Regions from separate parts of the Homo sapiens genome. Here region 2 is linked to region 1. Evidence: fine-mapped expression QTL. A gene starts in region 1. The other region holds a variant in brackets. All regions are shown on one strand. Distances are between the middles of the regions.

Region 1 (5,384 bases):
ATAGCCGTATTAAGAACAATGAAAACACTCAAATGAGCTCAAAAAGTTCCAAAATGTTATAGGGAAAACCTACTTTGCTTCCAGGCAGAATATGGATTTAATTCCCTGGATCCTATACTCATGATTTAAGCATTTTGAATTGAACACAATTATCCTGCTGTCTAAGGTAAAAAGGGATTGTAAAGTTCCTTTGACAATAATTCTCAAGGTAAGCAAAGCAAGATGAAAATCACGAAAAATGTTCACAAAACCTTTCCCTCCACTCAGTGGCTCCAATACCCAGGAATCTTTAAGCTACAAGTGAAACATATTTATGATGAAAATGAACTGAAAATTAAAGTCTCTTTACCTCAAAATGATAAAAGTGTTTCTGCCAATTGGGGTCTTGGCTTGAACTGCGCTCAGGCCACAGGGTACCTCTAATTCGTCTTTCAGATGGGACTGAATTTCATCTGGAGTCATACACAGGCTCAGGTCCCCACGCAGAAACACATCAGCTTCTGTGTCAGGATCATCAGGATTCACAAGCATCACTTTGTCACCGTAATGAATATAGCCATCTTCAGTTACGGAAAGTTGCATCTACAATTTTGATAGTAGTTTATTACATAAACCATGCAATTCCTCAACAGTTACTGCCAAGGCAATTTTCTTCCTTCTCGGACTAGTACCCATTTCATTCAGGATTTCACTTGGATTCCCTCGAACCCTTAGTTCCTTCTTCCTTTCCCTTCCCCTTTGCCAAGGCAAAGCTCCCAATAATTCCAAATGAAGTCGAATAAAGCTGGTTAAAATCACATGGATTTACTCATTATCCTAGAAATTCAACATTCATTGAAAAATTTGTCGATTACCAACTAAGGGGCATTTTACTTATTTACATATTAACTCATTTATTTCTTTATTTGTAAAATGCAGGTAAACATGATTTAGGGCAGACTGTTTATGTTTCTAAAATCTTAGAAGAATTTAAAACATTGCAAATTGTTTTTAAAAACTGTTATTTTCCAAATGGTAACTCAGTTATGAAATTTTTTTCTTGCTTAACATATACTCACACCAAGTTCAACAGAATTTTGAAAACAATGTCTGAATTTAAAGTTACCGGTCTCAATAAACATACGTGTGCATGTGTCTTTATAGCAGCATGTTTTATAATCCTTTGGGTATATACCCAGTAATGGGATGTCTGGGTCAAATGGTATTTCTAGTTCTAGATCCCTGAGGAATTGCCACACTGACTTCCACAATGGTTGAACTAGTTTACAGTCCCACCAACTGCGGCACTATTCACAATAGCAAAGACTTGGAACCAACCTAAATGTCCAACAACGATAGACTGGATTAAGAAAATGTGGCACATATACACCATGGAATACTATGCAGCCATAAAAAATGATGAGTTCATGTCCTTTGTAGGGACATGGATGAAGCTGGAAACCATCATTCTGAGCAAACTATCGCAGGGACAGAAAACCAAACACCGCATATTCTCACTCATAGGTGGGAATTGAACAATGGAGAACACATGGACACAGGAAGGGGAACATCGCACACTGGGGCCTGTTGTGGGGTGGGGGGAGGGGAGAGGGATAGCATTAGGAGATATACCTAATGTTAAATGACGAGTTAATGGGTGCAGCACACCAACATAGCATATGTATACATATGTAACAAACCTGCACGTTGTGCACATGTACCCTAAAACTTAAAGTGTAATAAAAAAAAAAAAAGTTACCGGTCTCAAGAGATTCTGTTTTAGTCTTCTACTTCTCTGTATGAGAAGTTTCCCCTTGTCTCTCTTCTCTAAGAAGTCTTTCATGAGCTCCTAAACAGAAAATCAACAAAAGTAGCCCTGAATAATATAGATGTTAGTATTAATAACTTTTAGGTCAGAAGCTCTTCCAAGTTGAAAAAGCAAAATTTGAGTACAAAAAAAGAGATGTGAGCATAATTGGAATGATGGAACGTTTTTAGCACTACTTTAATATTTTTACTACATTATAGAATGTTTAGAAAAATGAGAAAGGCAAAACAAAGAAAAAGAAACATCACCAGTAATTACTCCAGCCAGATACCATCCTAAATGACATTTGGAGGCCATGTCTCCCCTGCTGGGGTTTCCCTTGACCGTATGATGACTGACACTAGAAAGTTCACCCCTCCCCAATCTGACCCGTATACGAATGGCTCAAAGCCTTGTTAAGACCACCCTTGGGAGAATACGAGGCAGTGAGTGAGTACAACGTCAATAAAAGGAATACTCAGGGTCATTTAAGAGGGCAAGCGTGGCAGGGTTGGAGTGGGGAGGGATATTATTTCTACCTAGAACCTGTGTCCTCACCTGGCCCGCAGCCTGAGACTGTAAGACTCTAAGGAATACGGGGGACTTAGTGGGGCTCTAGACTAAGCGGGAGACACAGGCCAGGGGCTTGAGAGTCAAGGCATCTGACTTTGGGAGGCCAAGGGACCCAGAGAAAGAAAAGTCAGGGTGCTCGGAGTAGAGGTCAGTGAGACCTGGGTTTGCAGTTCGGCAGGTGAGATTCCTTGGGAGTTTAGAGAAGTGGGGGATTTTAGAGGTATTCGCTGTATGCTGGGAGAGAGAGGAGGCTTGAGGCGCTCAAAGTAGGAGACTGAACTTAGAGCAGGGTCTGGGAGTTCCTGAGCTGCGGGTCTGCGCCTGGCCACACCCTGCGTACCTCCTCCAGGTAGACATCCTCATTCCAGTTGCCTATCCGGACTCCCGGACCATACACGTTCTGCGCCATCGCTCCCTGCTGTTCAGCAAGTGGGCCTCCCTCCGACACCATGCGTTAGCGTGGCGCGTCGCCATGACGACCCGGCCCCAGGCGATTGGTCAAGGTCTGGGACCCTGCTGGCCAATAAGCGACAGCGCGCACCCTCGCCCTGGGGCGGGAGATGGGGCGTCTGGGTCAGCGGCTGTCTGTGGCCCTCCAGCCCGCCCCACTTCCACCTCTTAGATTTCCTTAACTGCAGGGTGGGCGAGAGGGAAAACCCTGGCTGACAAAGTGCTTCCGAGAGAGAAATTTAAAGCTTTCTTTCTATTAGAATCTAACCGAAAAGTGCTATCGAGTACCCCTTGCTTGTCGAGGCAACAAAGAGGAGCTTTTAAATGGAAGCACGGCTTGCTTGCAGCCTATTTTTTGTAATCAGCAGCAGCAGCAGCAGCAGCAGCAGCAGCAATTTCGCCCTAATCATAAAACAATACCTGCTCAATGTACACATTTGGAAACCAAAATCGCATAGAAAGAAGAAAGGAAAATTAATAATTTCAGGGCCTTAAAAGTAAGAAATATACCATGTTAGTATATTTCTGTTTATAGGTTTCTGAGGTTGTCCATATTTTTGCGGACTTGACAGCATCCTCCCTCCCTCCCTCCCTTGCTCCCTCCTTCCCTGGGTCTCAAAGTTAAAGGACGAACCTGTGATTTGCAGGAACTCTTAAGAAAACCAGACTCTGCTGTAGCCAGCATTAATAAAACAAAATATTATTTTCTGGGGAGGGGAGGGATACCAGTTACTGTAGGACTACCGGAGGCTTGATGCAGATTGAATGCATTCAGTAATTTACCTCTATTTAGTGTCTAGTAAGACATGACTGAAATGGAAGACAGGAGCCTCCGCTCCCTTCAGCAAACCCAGTCTAAAAGAAAAGATAGTTCATGAAAACGAATTACTTAAGGAAGACTGTGGAAAAATGCAATTAAAGATGTGCTGATGGGCTGGCGTGGTGGCTCAAGCCTATAATCCAGCACTTTGGGAAGCCGAGGCAGGAGGATCACTTGAGCCCAGGAGTTCTAGACCAGCCTGGGCAACATAGTGAGACCCCATCTCCAATTTAAAAAAAAATACATATATATATATATATATATATATATATATATATATATATATATATATGCTGATGAAGGGCCATGGAGTTGAAGGATCCTTTCTGTCTTGAGGAACTGTGAGAATGGGAATTGGATGGCCTTTGAGTGATGGGAGAGGGGCTGCTTTGGAGCTGAACTGGGAAGGATTTGAACTGGCAGGCTGAAGTGTAGAATAAAAATAGGAACATTCCCACATTCTGATGAATCCACCAGCTCTGTCAATATATCACCACATTCGAGGATACTTCTGAAGGACACATAGGACAAAGCAGTTAGATCAGATAGTATACCACTAACTGCATTTGATAAATTCAGAAACTGAGACTCAAAGAAGCTAGCAGTCTAAATTCAAACTGCTAAAAGTTGCTCAAAGAAAGGACTCAGTCCAAACTTTCCGACTCCAAAGTCATGTTTGTTTGTTTTTCCTTTTAAGTATTTTTCATATTCCTCATAAAATCAAGAATAAAACAAAGCAGCTCTAGTCTCTACATTTTTAACAAGGTTCTAATGATTGGGTCATTCAGTAAGTCCTTACACTGATACAGCTTTGCTCCCACCTACTTCCTTAGTGCTATTTTTGACAAGTATATTACATTTCTATATATAATAGACCCAATAATACAATTATACATAGTGTTTTATACAATTGCTTTAAATCACTCAGGAGAAGAAATATCTTTATTGGTGCTCTATGGTATTTTTCTATGAACACAAATTACTGCTTTGTGTTGTTTTCAACCTGAATAACTTCCTTCCATATTTCTTATAAATCAGGTCTGCTAGCAACACATTCTCTTGGTTTTTGCTTACCTTAATAAGATGCTTTTTCTGGATACATGATTCTTTGTTGATAGCGTTTTTTTCTTTCTTTCAATATTTTAAATATGCCATCCTACTACCTCTGGACTCCCTTATTTCTTTTTCTTCCAAGACAGAGTCTCACTCTATCAACCTGGCTGGAGTACAGCAGCACAATCTCGGCTCACTGCAACCTCTGCTTCCCAGGTTCAAGCAATTCTCATGCCTCAGCCTCCTGAGTACCTGGGGCTAAAGGCATGTGCCACCATGCCTGGGTAATTTTTGTATTTTTAGTAGAGATGGGGTTTTACCAGGTTGGCCAGGCTGGTCTTGAACTCCTGACCTCAAGTGATCGGCCCTCCTCAGCCTTCCAAAGTGCTGGGATTACAGGCATAAGCCACCCTGCCCAGCCATGGCCTCCATTATTTCTGATGAGAAATCAGCTATTAATCTTATTTTGCTTCCCTTACACATACTCTTGCTGCTTTCAAGATTTTTTTTGTCTTTGTCTTTAATATTTTAACTAGATATATTTGGATATTGACCTCTTTTCTTTTATCCTGCTTGAGCTGCCTGAATATGTAAATTAATGCTCTTTTCATCAAATTTGGGGAATTTTCAGGCCTTATTGTTTGGAATATTTTTTCTGATCCTTTGTCTGTCTTCTGTCTTTATGAAACTCCCATCATGTGT
Region 2 (5,384 bases), 22 kb after region 1:
GAGACCATCCTGACCAACATGGTGAAACCCTGTCTCTACTAAAAATACAAAAAATTAGCTGGGCGTGGTGGTGGGTGCCTGCAGTCCCAGCTACTCGGGAGGCTGAGGCAGGAGAATGACGTGAACCCGGGAGGCGGAGCTTGCAGTGAGCCGAGATCGCGCCACTGCACTCCAGCCTGGGCGACAGAGCGAGACTCCGTCTTAAAACAAACAAACAAACAAAAACCCTCGTCTTCCTCTACCTCCATGAATATGCACTTAGTTTACTATGACATGCATATTCCCATTGCGATGTTCTATCCCCAAACATACATCTTTTCTTTCAGAGAGCCTCTCTCTGTTTGTTTAGATTGACATGTGAAAGAAGAGTCAATCAATGTGGCAAACTTCTTTGTTGTGTTATTTTAAGAAATTGCCATAGCCACCCTAATCAACCCCCACCCTCAACAGTCAGCAGCCAACAACAGCAAGGCAAGATCCTCCACTATCATAAAGATTACAACTCACTGAAAGCCCAAATGGCTCTAAGCATTTTTTAGCAGTAAACTATTTTTAAATTAAGATATGTACATTTTTTAGACATAAAGCCATTGAACACTTAATAGACCACAGTATAGTGTAAGTATAAATGTTTATATGCACTGGGAAAACAAAAATCTATGTGACTCACTTTAATGCAATATATGCTTCAGTGCAGCAGTCTGGAAACAAACCCACGTTATCTCTGAGGTATGCCTGTATGTTGTAGCAGCTCTGTCTATTTTTTCTCCATGCCCAGGGCTCATTGTTTTTGTTTGCTTGTTTGCTAGTATATTTGTTTGGCAACTGTGGTATTATAAGAAACATATTTGGTTTTTCTTCTTTGTTCTTGGCACAGAGCTCCTAAAACCCTTGGAATTTCCTGAATGATGAGAATGTCTTTTGTTATTCATAATAAGCTCCTTTTGATCACACTGAATTTATACGAATCAGGTAACTTAGGGTGGAGCCCTTAGATAGCCTCGTGATGGGACTGGCCACCAGAAGGACCAAGTGATTCGAGAGTGGAGACTTTTAGCTCCACTGACCCAGCTCCAAGAAGAAAGGTGAGGGGCTGGAGATTAAGCTCTGAGAGAACTCTTGAACAATAAATGTTGATGTGCTCCTGGGCTGGTGAACACATCGAGGTGCTGGGAAGGTGGCACCCAGAAAAGTCATGGAAGCTCTGCACCCCTTTCCTCACTCCTTACCCTATGCATCTCTTCCATTTGGCTGTTACTGAGTTGTATCCTTTATAACATCCTTTGTAATAAATCAGTAAACGCAGAGTACTTTCCTGGCTCTATGAGTCATTCTAGCAAATAATTGAACTTGAGGAGGGGGCCATGGGAACTCCTGATTTTACAGCCAGAAGTATGGGTGGCCCAGGACTTGCACTTGGCATCTGAAGTGAAGGCAGTCTTGTAAAACCGAACGCTTTTAGCCTGTGAAATCTGACACTAACTCCAGGTAGTTAATGTCAGAGTGGAATTTAATTGTTGGACACCCAGTTGGTGTCTGGAGAATCAATAATTGGTTGTTAGTGTTGGAAAACACTCCAGTGACCTTGGCTAGACTAGTTTGCTGAAGTCTATTTCCTGGACACTGTGCAGTCTCTGGTGTTACTCATTAGAGGGCACAGACTTGGGCATGAGCAGAGTCCCTTGACTCCCCAAATGAATCTTAACAAGATAAACAAAGTAACATAAAGAATCATCTCACAACTTACAACGCAGATGAATTTAAAAGCCAGGTGATAATAAAATAATAAATATGCAAGGGATTTTTTAAATTCTCCTTTTATTACTTTTTACTCTTTTTATCATAAAATATTCATTTTACATGTGATTATATCAAGTTTTAAATTTACATTCCTCAAAAACTCTCAAAGCCAAGATTAAAACAGAAATGCACTCATACATTATTGGATGCTGTGCAATTTACTCAGTATTACTTAGCAATAAATATCCCCTTAAAATCAGGCCACCACTCACCTCGCTTTAAAAGTATTATTTTGACATAAACTAGCTATATACTAGAAAACTTAATTTGCTATTGTTTTCTTTTTTATGATTTATGTATTTATTTTAGGGTCTCAGGTACATTAAATTGGATTATGACACACTCTCAGCAGTGGTCCTCTAGTTATTTAGCCGGTTATTTTTAAATAATGTAATAAGCACTTGTAAACCTATAACCCCAAAATAAAAGCTAAGATCTTGATAATAATCTACATCTAAATATAAGAGTCTTTCATTCCCCATCCCTCCCTACC[T/C]CCAGCCAAGGTAACCATCTCCTAAATCCTGTGTTCATTATCCACTTGCTTTTCTTTTTATATAGTTTTATTATACCTATATGTAATCTCAAAATTATGTTTTAATTTTAAGTTCATAAAGATATAACATGCTCTATGTATTGTTTTCATTATTTGATGAAGCTCTTGGGAAAATTTAATTGGAGCCTTTCATTACTTGTAAAACATCTGGCAGGAAAGAAAAGTGAAAGAAAAACTTGGGAATAATCATTTTTAGAAAAGAGAAGTGGGACAAAATTCAGATATTAGGAAAGATAAATACAGGCTATTGTCTTACTTTCCATAGTTCGGAAAGTTTAAAAGTTCTTGTTGGATGACAAATGTAAGTCATCACAGTGTAGTAAAGAAAAAAAAAAAACAGATTGAAGCTCCTTTCACTCGGCTTGCGCAAGTATTTTTGTCTCTGAGCCTCAGCATCTTCATCATTAAAAACAGATTAAAGATATTACTGGTAACTCTCGGGAAAGTATTTCCAAAATAATCTGCAATATGTTAATAGGTGTGAAAGGGGAAAGGGTTCTATGGTCAAATAAATTTGAGAAATGCTGAGTTAAATAGGTTTCTTGATTGCAGATCTTCTCAGATCCTTGAATTAATGGCCTGCACTATAAATCTACAAAATGGCAATAATCCATACAACACTTCCTAAGCTAATTTCAACATCAAATCCTTTTCTTTAGAATCACCTTTTAAAACTGCTATTTAAGGAACAATGACTCAGAGACTTTTTGAAACTTAAATGACATAATAATAGAAATGATGAATAGGATTTGGACATGCAGATGCAAGAACAGAGGTAAGCACTTTCCAGGCAGAGGAAGGAGGATGAGGCCAAGCACAGAAGCAAGAAAGCAAGGGCCAGGAGGGACACAGGGTGATGAGAGGCAGAGGGGAGATGATGGGAAAGTACCTTCAGCATCGAGGCAAGAGTTGGTGGTTTTCTTCTGCAAGTAGTGGAGAGCCCCTGAAACTTTCAGAAGAGGAAATTGACAAGGGACAGAGAGTAGAGCTTTCGGAAGGTTGCTGGGGCTACAGGCCATTGCCTGGATTTAAAGCAGACAGGCCAGGGTAGGGGGTCAGGAAGCCTAGTTAAAGATAGCCCCAGGAGAGGTGATGCCGTGTGCTGACTTAAGCAGTGGCAGCGGGGATAAGGAGGTGGAACTAAATAAGAAAAGAATCAAAAGTGATATTGTCAGGTCTTGGAAAAATGACACTGCAATGGGCAAATCCTTTCAATTGTTCATTCAACCAAAATTCACTGTGCGTCAAGCACTGTGCTCAGCCTTCTGGATGCAGTGGGAAATAAGATACTCATGGTCCCCGCCTTTGTGGAGAGTCAGAAGGAGAAGACTGTTCTGAACAAGTAGTTACATGTGTAAGGTGTGTTGCCGAAGGGTCAGTACAGGGAGGATTTCTCTGAAAGGAATTCAGCAATGTTTTCCCACTAAATAACAGTCCTTTGAAAAAGCAGACAGGATATTGAAAATAATCCAGTTTAACAGAACTACATAATCATTTTTTAATAGCTCATCTGATCAAAGGCACGTATTCCTATTCTCTGCAAAGAACATAGAGTGATGTCTCTACATAGAAAGGGTCTCCTAGTCTTTTTTGTCTCCATCTATTTTTGCCTTCAGCTTCTAGCAGACCCCTGGGGGAAAGAATATCACACCAACAATGCACCTTTGCTTCTCCGCAGCCCAGCATGGCCACCAGAGCCCAGCATTCGTCCCCAGGAACAGGACTATGAGCCTAAGGTCTTGCATCCCCTTTTTAGTGCCCTTGATCATCTGGTGGTCAGTCTCCAGTCCCCTTCCACCGAAGCTGACCACTTGGGTAATATGCCTGCTTATACTATGAAATCCTGAGAGCGGAAGAGATTTCTTACTATTTACTTTCTCCACTGGCTTCTAAAAAGGGAAACCCTTTTGTAGTTAACACTCTGGTGGGTATGGGAATGCCGGCATGGACCCAGAGTAGTGTTTAGTCTCAGTCTGCCTAAGAGAGTGAAAAGAAATGAAGTTTCCCATCTGTGGTGATGCATTCTCCAGAAGCACCCAGAGGCAAGGGTGACCAGGAGAACAGCACCCTCCTGGAAATTCACAGATATCCTGGGGAGGGTTTCAGACTTCTAAGTGGCATAAAGGGGATGGAGGGAGTGGGGGGCTTCAAGTCATTTATTCTAGATATCAAAAAACATAGAGACCTTTAACTGATATTTTCGTTATAGGAGGATGCTGTCCTTCAAAATCACCAGAAAATTTTTTAAATTTTTGCCCCCTTTTAAGCAGGGGAGACTTCTTTTAAACAAAAGCAAGACAGAATTCAATTACATAAAACAAATATGAGAGGTCTTCAAAAAGTTCATGGAAGACACATCTTATGAAAAAACTATACATGGATTTAAAAAAATTTTGCACCAAAACAAACTCACACTAACCTGTACTGAATGTCTGAACAGGATCTATTTTGAGGCACTAAGAAGGATAAGACATCAGTTTGCAAAGATCTCGTATCAGAGCTACATGGATTCTGCTAAAATTGGACCAAGAACAAACATCAAATTTATGCAGAAATTTGGGTGGAAAAATGGTGAAATCACTGATGCTTTATGAAAGTTTATGGTAATAATGCCCCAAAGAAATCAGCAGTTTAAAAATGAATAATTAATTTTAATAAGGGATGAGGCAATGTTGAAGATGAAGCCTGCAGTGGTAGACCATCCACATCAATTTGGAAGGAAAAATATTATCTTCTTTATGCCCTGATTAAAGAGAATTGACATTAACAGTAGAAACAATAACCAACATCATAGACATCTCAATTGGTAACTTACGCAATTCTTTTTTGAGATAAGGTCTTACCCTGTCATCTAGGTTGGGGTGCCATGGTGCAATCATAGGTCATCACAGCCTCAAACTCCTGGACTCCAGTGATCCTCCTGCCTCAGCCTCCTGAATAGCTGGGACTACAGGCATACACCACCACACCCAGCTAATTTTTAAATTTTTTGTAGAGACAGGGTCTTACTATGTTGCCCAGGCTGGAGCAC

The links. PIP is the estimated chance that this variant, and not a neighbour inherited with it, causes the effect.
Region 2: its variant is fine-mapped to the expression of CFAP161 in whole blood (TOPMed, PIP above 0.99).

Annotation. Positions count from the first base shown.
Region 1 is chr15:81,131,714-81,137,097 of GRCh38, reverse strand. It overlaps CFAP161 (cilia and flagella associated protein 161), which reads right to left and starts at 2,828. Exons shown (of 7, transcript NM_173528.4): 1 at 2,700-2,828; 2 at 1,739-1,828; 3 at 350-582. The coding sequence starts at 2,768.
Region 2 is chr15:81,109,501-81,114,884 of GRCh38, reverse strand. It overlaps a transcript of CFAP161 not described here. Among named protein-coding and RNA genes, the nearest start is that of CFAP161, 22 kb to the left of the region's middle. RefSeq lists an enhancer at 3,121-3,280. The variant T/C (reference allele first, on the strand shown) is at 2,294.